2 separate regions of the Homo sapiens genome follow, and region 1 is linked to region 2. Evidence: fine-mapped expression QTL. A gene starts in region 2. The other region holds a variant in brackets. All regions are shown on one strand. Distances are from middle to middle.

Region 1 (5,539 bases), 100 kb after region 2:
TGATCTTTTGTATTTCTGTGGTATTGGTTGTAATATCACCTGTTTCATTTCTAATTGAGTTTATTCGGATCCTCTCTTTTTTTCTTGGTTAATCTCTCTAATGGTGTCTCAATTTTATCTTTTCAAAGAACTAACTTTTGTTTCATTTATCTTTTGTATTTTTTTTTGTTCAATTTCATTTAGTTCTGCTCTGATCTTTGTTATTTCTTTTCTTTGGCTGGGTTTGGGTTTGTTTGTTCTTGTTTCTCTAGTTCCTTGAGGTGTGACCTTAGATTGTCTATTTGGGCTCTTTCCGACTTTTTGATGTAGACATTTAATGCTATGAACTTTCTTCTTAGCACTGCCCTTGCTGTATCCCAGAGGTTTTAATAGCTTTTTCACTATTATGGTTCAGTTCAAATAATTTTTTAATTTCCATCTTGATTTCATTGTTGACCCAACAATCATTGAGGAGCAGATTATTTAAGTTCCATGTATTTGCATGATTTTGAGAGTTACTTTTGAAGTTGATTTCCAATTTTATTCAATTGTGATCTGAGAGAGTACTTGACATAATTTTGATTTTCTTATATTTATTGAGACTTGTTTTATAACCTATTATATGGTCAATCTTGAAGAATGGTCAATGTGTTAATGAATAGAATGTATATTCTGCAGTTGTTGGGTAGAATGTTCTGTAAATATTTTTGAGTCCATTTGTTCTAGGGTATAATTTAAGTCTATTGTTTGTTTGTTGACTTTCTGTCTTGATGACCTGTCCAATGCTGTCAGGGGAGTATTGAAGCCCCCCATTATTATTGTGTTGCTATCTCATTTCTTAGGTGTAGTAGTAATTGTTTGATAAATTTATGAGTTCTAGTGTTAGGTGCATATATATACACACACACACACACACACACACACACACACACACACGATTGTGATTTTTTCTCTTGGACTAGTCTTTTTATCATTATATAGTATCCCTGTTTGTTTTTTATTACTGCTGTTGCTTTAAAGTTTCTTTGGTCTGATGTAAGAATAGCTATTCCTGCTTGCTTTTGGTGTCCATTTTCACAGAATATCTTTTTCCACTCCCTTAATATAGGTTTGTATGAGTCCTTATGTGTCAGGTGAGGAAGACAGCAGATACTTATTTGCTGAATTCTTATCCATTATGCCATTCTGCATCTTTTAAGTAGGGCATTTAGTTCATTTACATTCAATGTTAGTATTGAAATGTGAGGTACTATTCTATTCATTGTGCTAGTTGTTATCTGAGTACCTTTTTTTGTGTGTGTGTGTGTGTGGTGTTATAGGTCCTGTGAGATTTATGCTTTAAAAAGATTCTGTTTTGGTGTATTTTGAGGATTTTTTTTCAAGTTTTAGAGCTCCTTTTAGGAGTTCTTGTAGAACTGGCTTGGAAGTGGCAAATCCTCTCAGGACTTATTTCTCTGAAAAAGACTATCTTTCCTTCATTTATGAAGCTTTATTTCACTGGATACAAAATTATTGGCTGATTATTGTTTTCTTTAAGGAGGCAAAAGGTAGGACCCAAATCCCTTCTTGCTTGTAGGGTTTGTGCTGAGCAATCTACTGATAAACTAATAGGTGTTCTTTTATAGGTTATTTGATACTTTTGCCTCACAGCTCTTAGGACGCTTTTCTTTGTCTTCGCTTTAGATAATCTGATGACTATGTGCCTAGGAGATGATCTTTTATGGGATAAACTTTCCAGGCGTTCTTTGAGCTTCTTATATTTGAATGTCTAGATATCTAGCAAGGCTCGGGAAATTTTCCTTGATTACTCCCTTAAATATGTTTTCCAAACTTTTAGATTTCTCTTCTTCCATGGGAACACCAATTATTCTCAGGTTTGATCATTTAACATAATCCCAAACTTCTTGGAGGCTTTGTTTACTTATTTTTTATTCTTTTTTCTTTGTCTTTGTTGGATTGGGTTAATTCAAAAGCCTTGTTTTTGAGCTCTGAAGTTCTTTCTTCTACTTGTTCAATTCTATTGTTCAGACCTTCCAGTGCATTTTGCATTTCTCTAAGTGTGTCCTTCATTTCGAGAAGTTGTAATTGTTTTTTATTTATCTATTTCACTGGAGATTTCTCCATTCATATCCTGTATCCTTTTTTTATTTCTTTCAATTGAACTTTACCTTTCTCTGGTGCCTCCTTGATTAGCATAATTGACCTTCTGAACTCCTTTTCTGGCAATTCAGGGATTTCGTCTTAGTTTCGATCAATTGCTGGTAAGCTAGTGTGATTTTTTTGAGGGTGTTAAAGAACCTTATTTTGTCATCACATTACCACAATTACCAGAAATCTTTTTCTGTTTCCTTCTCATTTGGGTAGACTATGTCAAAGGAAAGATCTAGTGCTCAAGGGCTGATGTTCAGGTTATTTTGTCCCACAGGGTGCTCCCTTGATGTGGTTCTCTCCTCTTTTCCCTTGATGTGGCTCTCTCCTCACTACAGTGTGGCTTCCTAAGAGCCACACTGTAGTGATTATTATTCTTTTCTTGATCTAGGCACCCAGTGGGGCTACCAGGTTCTGGGCTGGTACTGGGGAGTGTCTTTAAAGGGTCCTGAGATGTGATCTGTCTTCAGGTCTTTCAGCCATGGATACCAACACCCGCTCCAGTGGAGGTAGCAAGGGAGTGAAGTGACTCTGTGAGGGTCTTTGGTTGTATTTTTATTAAGTGCACTGGTTTTATATTGGTTGGCCTCTAGCCAGGATGTGGCACTTTCAAGAGTGCATGA[T/G]CTATGGTAGTATAGGTACCAGGTGGTGGGCAGGCCATAGAGCTTCCAAAAGATTATGTCCTTTGTCTTCAGCTACCAGGTAGGAAGAGTAAGACAATCAGGTATGGGAAGGTTAGGCATGTCTGAGCTCAGATTCTCCCTGGGTGGGGCTTGCTGTGGCTGCTGTGGGGGATGGGAGTGTGGCTCCCAGGCTAATGGAGTTGTGTTCCCAGGGGGACTATGGCTGCCTCTGCTGTGTCACACAGGTCACCAGGGAAGTGGGGGAAAGCTAGCAGCCACAGGCCTCATCCAGCTCCCATGCAGCCCACAGTCTGAAAGGCCACTCTCACTCCCACCATGCCCACCCCCACCAGTAAACTGAGTTTATTTCCAGGCTGCTGGTGAGCAGGGCTGAGAACTTGCTCCAGGCTACAAGCCTTCCAGCTGAGAAAGCAAGCAGACTCACAGTTCCTCAGCTGTCCCACAGAGCCTGCAGCAGCAATCCACCTCCTTCAAAGGGTCTGTGGATTCCCTCAGCTTTCCTGGTATTTCCTGCAGTAGTTCTTGGAGCAAAGTTCACAATGTGAGTCTCCACATGCTACTGGATTTGTCTGAGTGGGAGCTACAAGTTAGTCCTGCCTCCTACCCGCCATTTGTTTCCTCTTCTGCCTTTCTTAAAAGGTTTTATAAACTGATTTATTAGTTTTTTAAGAGAAATAAAAAGCATTGTCAAAAAATGCAATTTAAAGACATGCCACACAACATGAACTGCCAATTAGACATAAAAGGCAACTATACTACATCCAACAACAATAGAATACACATTCTTCAAGCAAACATAGAACATTCTCCAGAATAAACCATATGCTACATCATAAAATATGAAACAATAAATTTAAAAATATTGAAATCATAATTCATGTGTTTTCTGGCCATAATAAAATGAAATTAGAAATCAATAAGAGAAGAATATTAGGAAATTTCATAAACATGTGGAAATTAAACAACATTCTCCTAAATAATCAATGCATCAAGAAGAAATCAAGAGGGAAATTAAAAAACTCTTTCAGGTGAAGAAAATGTAATACATATCGTAACAAAACTTAAGAGATGCAACAAAAATAGTCATTAGAGAGAAATTTATGGCTGGGATAGCTTATATTATTTTTAAAAGCTTGTATTATTTTAATACAAACTAAACTCTACCAGGCAGAAGGAAGGACACAACAATTAGAGCAGAAATTAATTAACACAGAACAGAAAAACAATAGAGAAAATTAATAAATCCAAAATTTGGTTATTTGAAAAGATCAAATTAGTGATCTTTTAAATAGACTGAACAAGAAAAAAGAACACTCAAATAATTAAAATCTGGAATGAAAGGGGGCATTACTATTGACTTTATAGCAATAAAAAGTATTGTAGGAGAATGAAAAATTGCATGCCAATGATTAGATAACCTAGATGAAAAGCACAAATTCCTAGAAAGACATAAACTACTGGAACAGATTCAAGAAGATATTAAAAATCTGAATAGATTTCTACTATAATAAGCAGAGAGGTTGAATTGTGAATTTTAAAACTTACCACAAAGGAAAGCCAAGTACCAGATGACTCCACTGCTGAATTCTACCCAAACATTTAAAGAAGAATTAAGGCCATTCTACAAAAAGTCTTTTAAAAAGTTAGAGAAAAGGCAGCACTGTTCAACTCATTTTATGACAGTCTTAAACTCATATCCAAACCACATGAACATATAAAAAGAAAACTATAGACTAATATCCCTTATCAATATAGATGCAAAAATTTTCAATAAAATACTAGTAACCCTAATCCAGCAACATATAAAAAGGATTATGCTACACAATTTAGTGAGACTTATCCCAGGAAGGCAGGACCATTTCAACAGCTGAAAATCAATAAACATGATACATTATACTAATAGAATAAAGAACAAACACTGCATAGTTCTCTCAGTAGATAAAGAATTAGTATTTGACAAAATCCAGCAACTTTTAATGATAAAACAGCCAACATACTAAAAACTACAAGGGAACGTCATCAAGATTATAAAAGGCATCTATAAAAATTCCACAGTAATCATCACACTTAATGGTGAAAAACTAAATGATTTCCCTCTAAGAACAGGCAGCAAACAACAATATTTTCTCTCATCACTTCTATTCAACATCGTAGTGGAGGTTTGAGAAAGAGAAATGAGATAAGAAAATAAAATAAAAGCATCAATATTAGAAAGGAAGAAGTAAAACTGGCTCTAGATGACATGAACTTTTGTATATAGAAAATCCTATGGAATGCAATAAATGTATTAGAATTAATAAATGAGCTCAACAAGGTTGGAGGATACATAGTCAATATAAAAAATCAGCTATAATTTTACACACTGGCAATAAATATTTCTAAAATTAAGAAAATGTTCTTATATATGTAATAGCAGGAAAAATATCTAGGAATAAATTTAATGAAATAAATGCAAGATCTGTATGCTGAAAACTACAAACCATGGTTGAAAGATATTTTAAAATGCTGAAATAAATAAAAAGACATACAACATACATAGATCACAGCACTTAATATTGTTAAGATGAAAATATTCTCCAAATTGATCGATAAGTTCAACACAGTCTTATATAATAAAAGGATCCCAGATGTCTTCTTTGCAGAAATTAACAAACTTATTCTAAAATGTATATGGAAATGCAAGGGAGCCAGAAGAGCCAAAATCATTTTGAAAAAGAAGAACAAATTTGAAGAACTTACAATTCATGATTTCAGATGTCAAGACAGTA
Region 2 (5,000 bases):
ACAGTCCATTTCTGAGTCTCAGTTTCTCTTCTCCTTTAATCTTCAGTCTTGACTGACAGAAAAGCAACCTTCAATGAGTGCCATGCTGGTGGCCTTACTGGCTGTTCTTTTCCATCATTTATTTTCACCTGCTTACATTGGCCACTGTAAAACATTTTTTATTTCCTCAAAGTCTGCAAGCAAGGAGGGTCATTAATTTTTATTAGACTTAATGAAATGATTGCTAGATTTATTTGAATATTAGAAATAAATAGTATTAATTAATACCGGAAGCTAAGAATCACAGAGAAAGATGCCACTAATATCCTAAAGTCTTCCAAATTCCCTTATTTTCCTCATCCTCTGTCCTTGTGCTCATTTCAGCAGGCATATCACCTCTAATTGTTTAGGTCTCAACCCTCAACCCTTCCCACCTGTTTCCTGGTCACTTCACCCCTCAGAATATGAGGTTATCGGCATATTTCAGGACATAACCATGTAGAATCATTAGATCATTTACCCGTTACATTGTTCTGATAACTGATTATTTATCCGCTTAAAGTAAAGGTGGATTCCCAGTGGTAGGTAACCTTTTATTGGGCTCCCAATTTTCAGTACTAATATTCGCAAACACATTACAGGTTTTGTTCTTCCCCCAACAAGAAGGCCAAGGGCAGACTATATGTGATGACCATATACACAGACAAAAGGTAGCTACACAATTAGGCGCTGAACAAACCACAGCAAGGGCAACAATTCTCACTGCATTTTCCCAAAAGGCAATTGAATAGATCAAGCTTTAGCTAAGCTTGGCCTGAATGTTTCTGTGAGGCATCTTCCTGGTTCTCCCTTTAACTTGCAGAGAGCACACATTCTGAAAGACTGGCCTGATTGTTCCAATAAGGCTTTCATTCCCATCTCTGATTGGCAGGAGAGACTTTAGAATGTAGATGCCATCAAGTTTATCAGGTGAACTCATCCTTCTTGGCAAGAGTGCAACTTTTCATCTGTGACAAGGCAAAAGGTTTTATAATCTATGTTGATGGGATATGATGTTGGGAATTTTGTTCTGAAAAATAAACGTGTTGCAAAGCCATTGGGTAATCTGGATCTCAGGTTATTATTATTGTCTTTATGTTAGTCAAGATAAAGAAAGATGGTATAATTTTGTAAGGTAGCAAAGTGAATAACCCCACCAAGCTCTGAAATATTCTAACCTTTGAATTTGTCTGGTCTTTTCCACACTGAAATAATGATAAATTACATTGCTGAATTTCCTTTTAAAAGGTAACTGAAATACTGTATTTAGCAACTCAATAAGACCTTTTTACTGAAAATATTTAAAATTTACAAGAAGAGAGTTTAAAGATGACACATTGATGCATTTGTATGGCAAACAGCAATTAATTTCACATATAATTGCAAATTCAGTTTATGACAGAGTTTTTCATTCAAACATGATTCTTCCTTTATGGGCAAGTTCATGAATTATTCAATATAGCAAATGTCACATTCTCCATAAATCAATTAAGCATCAAAGACATGTCATGTATAGTTTTACTAGAAGAAACCTCATCATAATACAAGCCACGTTAGCGCACAATAAACTGTAAACCAAAGAAATACAAAGCTAGTCGACATACTTTCTAAATTGTTCTACACTGTGATTTTAAATTAGCTCTTTAGAACAACTGTGTTTACATGAAACAGCAGCCTGAAAATCCTGTATGTCTTCCACGGAAACAATATTATTGCCAAAACAATGGAAATTCTCGTTTTTTACCATTCATCACGAAGATCCTTGTTCAGTACTTCAGAGTTGAAGTCTAACTTCTTTCCTTACACTCTCAAAGCATCAGTGTTTCCACTGTAGTTTGTTATGCTATCCCCCACCCCCAAACGCCAAAATCAAATCTTTTTAAAAGAGAAACTTACCCCAAGAAAGAGTGTGCTAGATGAGAGAATGTGCTGATGCCTGTAGATAATTAGCTAATAAACATGTAAATGGGCAACTCGCCCTTTGGAAGTGCATATTTTTATCCATTTTTTTTTTTTTTTTTTTTTTTTTTTTTTTACAGGGAAAGGTTAGCCCAGCCTAAAGTAGCAGACTCTGGGCTGCCGCAGCTTTTTACTGCAAACCGCTCATTCTGTAAATGTGAGCTTATTTACATTTATCTCTTTCCCTTTGTTAACGACTCCCTCTCTTGAATGCTGTAGCCCGCATGCCTTTAGCAAACAGGACACAAAAAGGCCTGAAGTCCGAGCTGGAGCCGACGGCCAGGGGAACTCTTGGGGGTCTCAATAGGAAATGCTTTTCATTGGCTAAGGAGGCATTATTAGGAGTCTAGATCCCGCCCAATTCCCTGTGCTCCATCGTTCCCTTAGTCACCAGTCACTGGACTGAATAAGTTTTTCCTTAAAGAGCATTGCCCAGGAAAAGCAGTTTCACAGTCAAGAATTAATGGCTTAAGTGCCACTTGACAATATAAAAAGTGTCTTTCCTGACCAATTAATCCACAGAGAAAGCCTGTGTGCCTGTCTTTGCCGCAGGACTGCAGAGGAGGAGACAACATTTCAAACAAGGAGGAGTGTTTCAATTATGCATACCATGTTCGCTCCTACTTGTTTAAAATAATTACAACAATATTGATAATAATAAGTAGGGGGCAAGGAAAAGGCAAAAATGAAAGGTACCATAAAAATATTCCTATCACACTGTGCAAAATTCAATCTCCCACCATCACAAAAATATAAAGTAAATTTTAATACTACACTCACTTAAGCCAGATAAGTGCCCTCAGATAGAGATGTACTAGGGTCCCAGAGCTCTGACACCCACCTTCCAAGGACTAGGGAGTGTTCTGTAGCAAAAGGAGGGTCTACACTTCTCAAGTAACTGCCTCGCAGTAAGTCTAATTACCATGAAAATTTCAGAGATTTGCTAAAATACAAAATAAATAGCACAGATGCAATCTATTTACAATAGAGAGTTATCTGCAACTGTATACCTCCGCCCACCTCCCCCATGGCAAGATTTTCTTTTCTAATTATCTACAGGTTTACTGCCTTGGTCACTCACAATTCTTTTTTTTTTTCCTCCCTATATTTTCCTCTTCACCTCCCTCTCCTTGATCTGATTTTGTGGCAGAAACCCACTCATCCATCTGTAACTTCATTGTTGGCCCTTCCCCTCTGCCAGCCCACCCCTGCAAGCCTTCTCTACTCTATCTCCACCCACTGCAAAAGCCACCAACAGCAGCCCCTCCCCCTCCTCTGGAATGAAATTCTCTGCCCAGGGATAAGGTGCTTTCTTTCTCTTGGCAGAGCAGAGCCCCTGGAGTCTTGGAGGATCCTCTATTTGCTTCAGAACTTCAGTTTGTGTAATTAAGCTGCCTCCCAAGTAGGGCATGTTTCAAGCTTGTTTATTCTCCCTATTTGTTCAGCTCTATTGTGGCTCTTCTCACTATCAGTGGAGGCCAGTAAACAAGTTAGTGTGAAGCTGACACTAGCCTTATTACTTGTAACTGGCTCTAAAAAAACACTTTCTCTGTTGCTTCCTCTTCTCCATCCCACCGCCCATCTCTGTTCTTTTTATTCCCCTCTCTGCTTATCTCAAATATGTCTATTTCTGTCAGTTGCTGACATTGTCTGTGTCTTTATAAATGGTCTTTTACCAACTCTCATCCTAGACCAGTACTCGGTGCATTTGTCAGTCCACAGGCGAAAGATACAGTCTCTACCCTGCAGTATGCCAGAGTCTAGGTAGGGACACAAAGACACATGAAAAAAGTGGGATACCAAAGGTAAATTTTGAAAAAAAAAATACCAAGGCAGTTATATGGAGATTGAGTTCTGTAATAGATCAGAGGATGGAGATGAAGTCCCATGGATAGGGCCAGGAGGGTTTCTTAGAAGAAGTGGGATTTGTGCCACATTTTGGTGGATGATTCAGTATTAAATAAACCAAGAATGGAAGGGGATATATTTCTAGGTGGGCAGAGCAAAGTGATCAAATGCAGAAGATGTAAAGTGAGAGTAGGTGAGAAGGAGACCAGTTTGTAAAGGGAAAATAAGGGTAAGGAGAAAAGCTTTTGAGAGGAGTACTTTACTGTAGCAACTCAATGCACTATAGTGATTGAAGGGTTAACCTATAGTCATGATCACTGTCTGTCTATATGATCAGCTCACTACCTTTCTCCTCTTCAAATTAATAGCCATAAGTTTTCCAATTCTTCTGTCTTCATTTCTCCCTCAAGGACACAAGTACTTTGCTGATTAATCTCACCAATGTAGCAGATCTTTTACAATGTCACTGGGTCACGTGCTCTTTTAGCATCAGTCTTCCTCCCTTCTGAGTTTCAGCCTCATTGATCCTCTTCCAGCCCCTAGAATGAGATAGGATCACTCATGCCATGGATATTTCTAAGTGCTATTTCCTCTGCCTGGAACACTCTCCTCCCTCTCTAATCTTCCTTTCACCAGTTTAATCCTTATTCTCCCTTCAAATCCTATCCCAATAATCACGCCTTCAGGGAATCCTTCCTTAACCCCTCATTTAGGTCATATCCACATACTATATGTCCTATAGCATCATGGACCTTTCATGTATTGCATTTTTTACTGGTATAATTTTACATACCGTTGTGTAATTTGTTTGTGTGACAATTTTATTAACATTGATTTCTCCCAACTGTAAACTCCAAGAGGATAGGATTAATATCTGCTTAATCCAAAAAGGATAGTGGTGTTTGCAAAAAATTATTCTCCCTGACCTTCTGTTTTACCCAACCAAAGCAACAACTAGACTTTTTTTACTTATCAGCTGAAAACATGCATCATTTTGCCCATTTTTGCACAAATTTACACCAAGATATTATTTTAGGCCAAAGAATACACACAAATAAAGAAAAAAAAATCCCATTAACAAGAAAGTACTAAGGCTTATCCACTACCATCCCCTTTTTCCTTTAACTCACTTATTGCTGCAAACCTTATAGTTTTGCTTGCTCTAACATTTGTAA

Which allele goes with the higher level. Positions count from the first base shown, and alleles are read on the strand shown. Sizes are in standard deviations (SD) of each study's normalised expression.
As copies of T replace G in region 1, the expression in tibial artery of the gene that starts at base 2,229 in region 2 goes down (small effect, 0.21 SD a copy in GTEx).

Evidence for each region. PIP is the estimated chance that this variant, and not a neighbour inherited with it, causes the effect.
Region 1: its variant is the best candidate, but not a certain one, in a credible set for the expression of LPAR4 in tibial artery (GTEx, PIP 0.60).

The regions. Positions count from the first base shown.
Region 1 is chrX:78,640,956-78,646,494 of GRCh38, reverse strand. No RefSeq gene overlaps it. Among named protein-coding and RNA genes, the nearest start is that of RTL3, 16 kb to the left of the region's middle. The variant T/G (reference allele first, on the strand shown) is at 2,751.
Region 2 is chrX:78,744,949-78,749,948 of GRCh38, reverse strand. LPAR4 (lysophosphatidic acid receptor 4) reads right to left here and starts at 2,229. Exons shown (of 5, transcript NM_001278000.3): 1 at 1,915-2,229.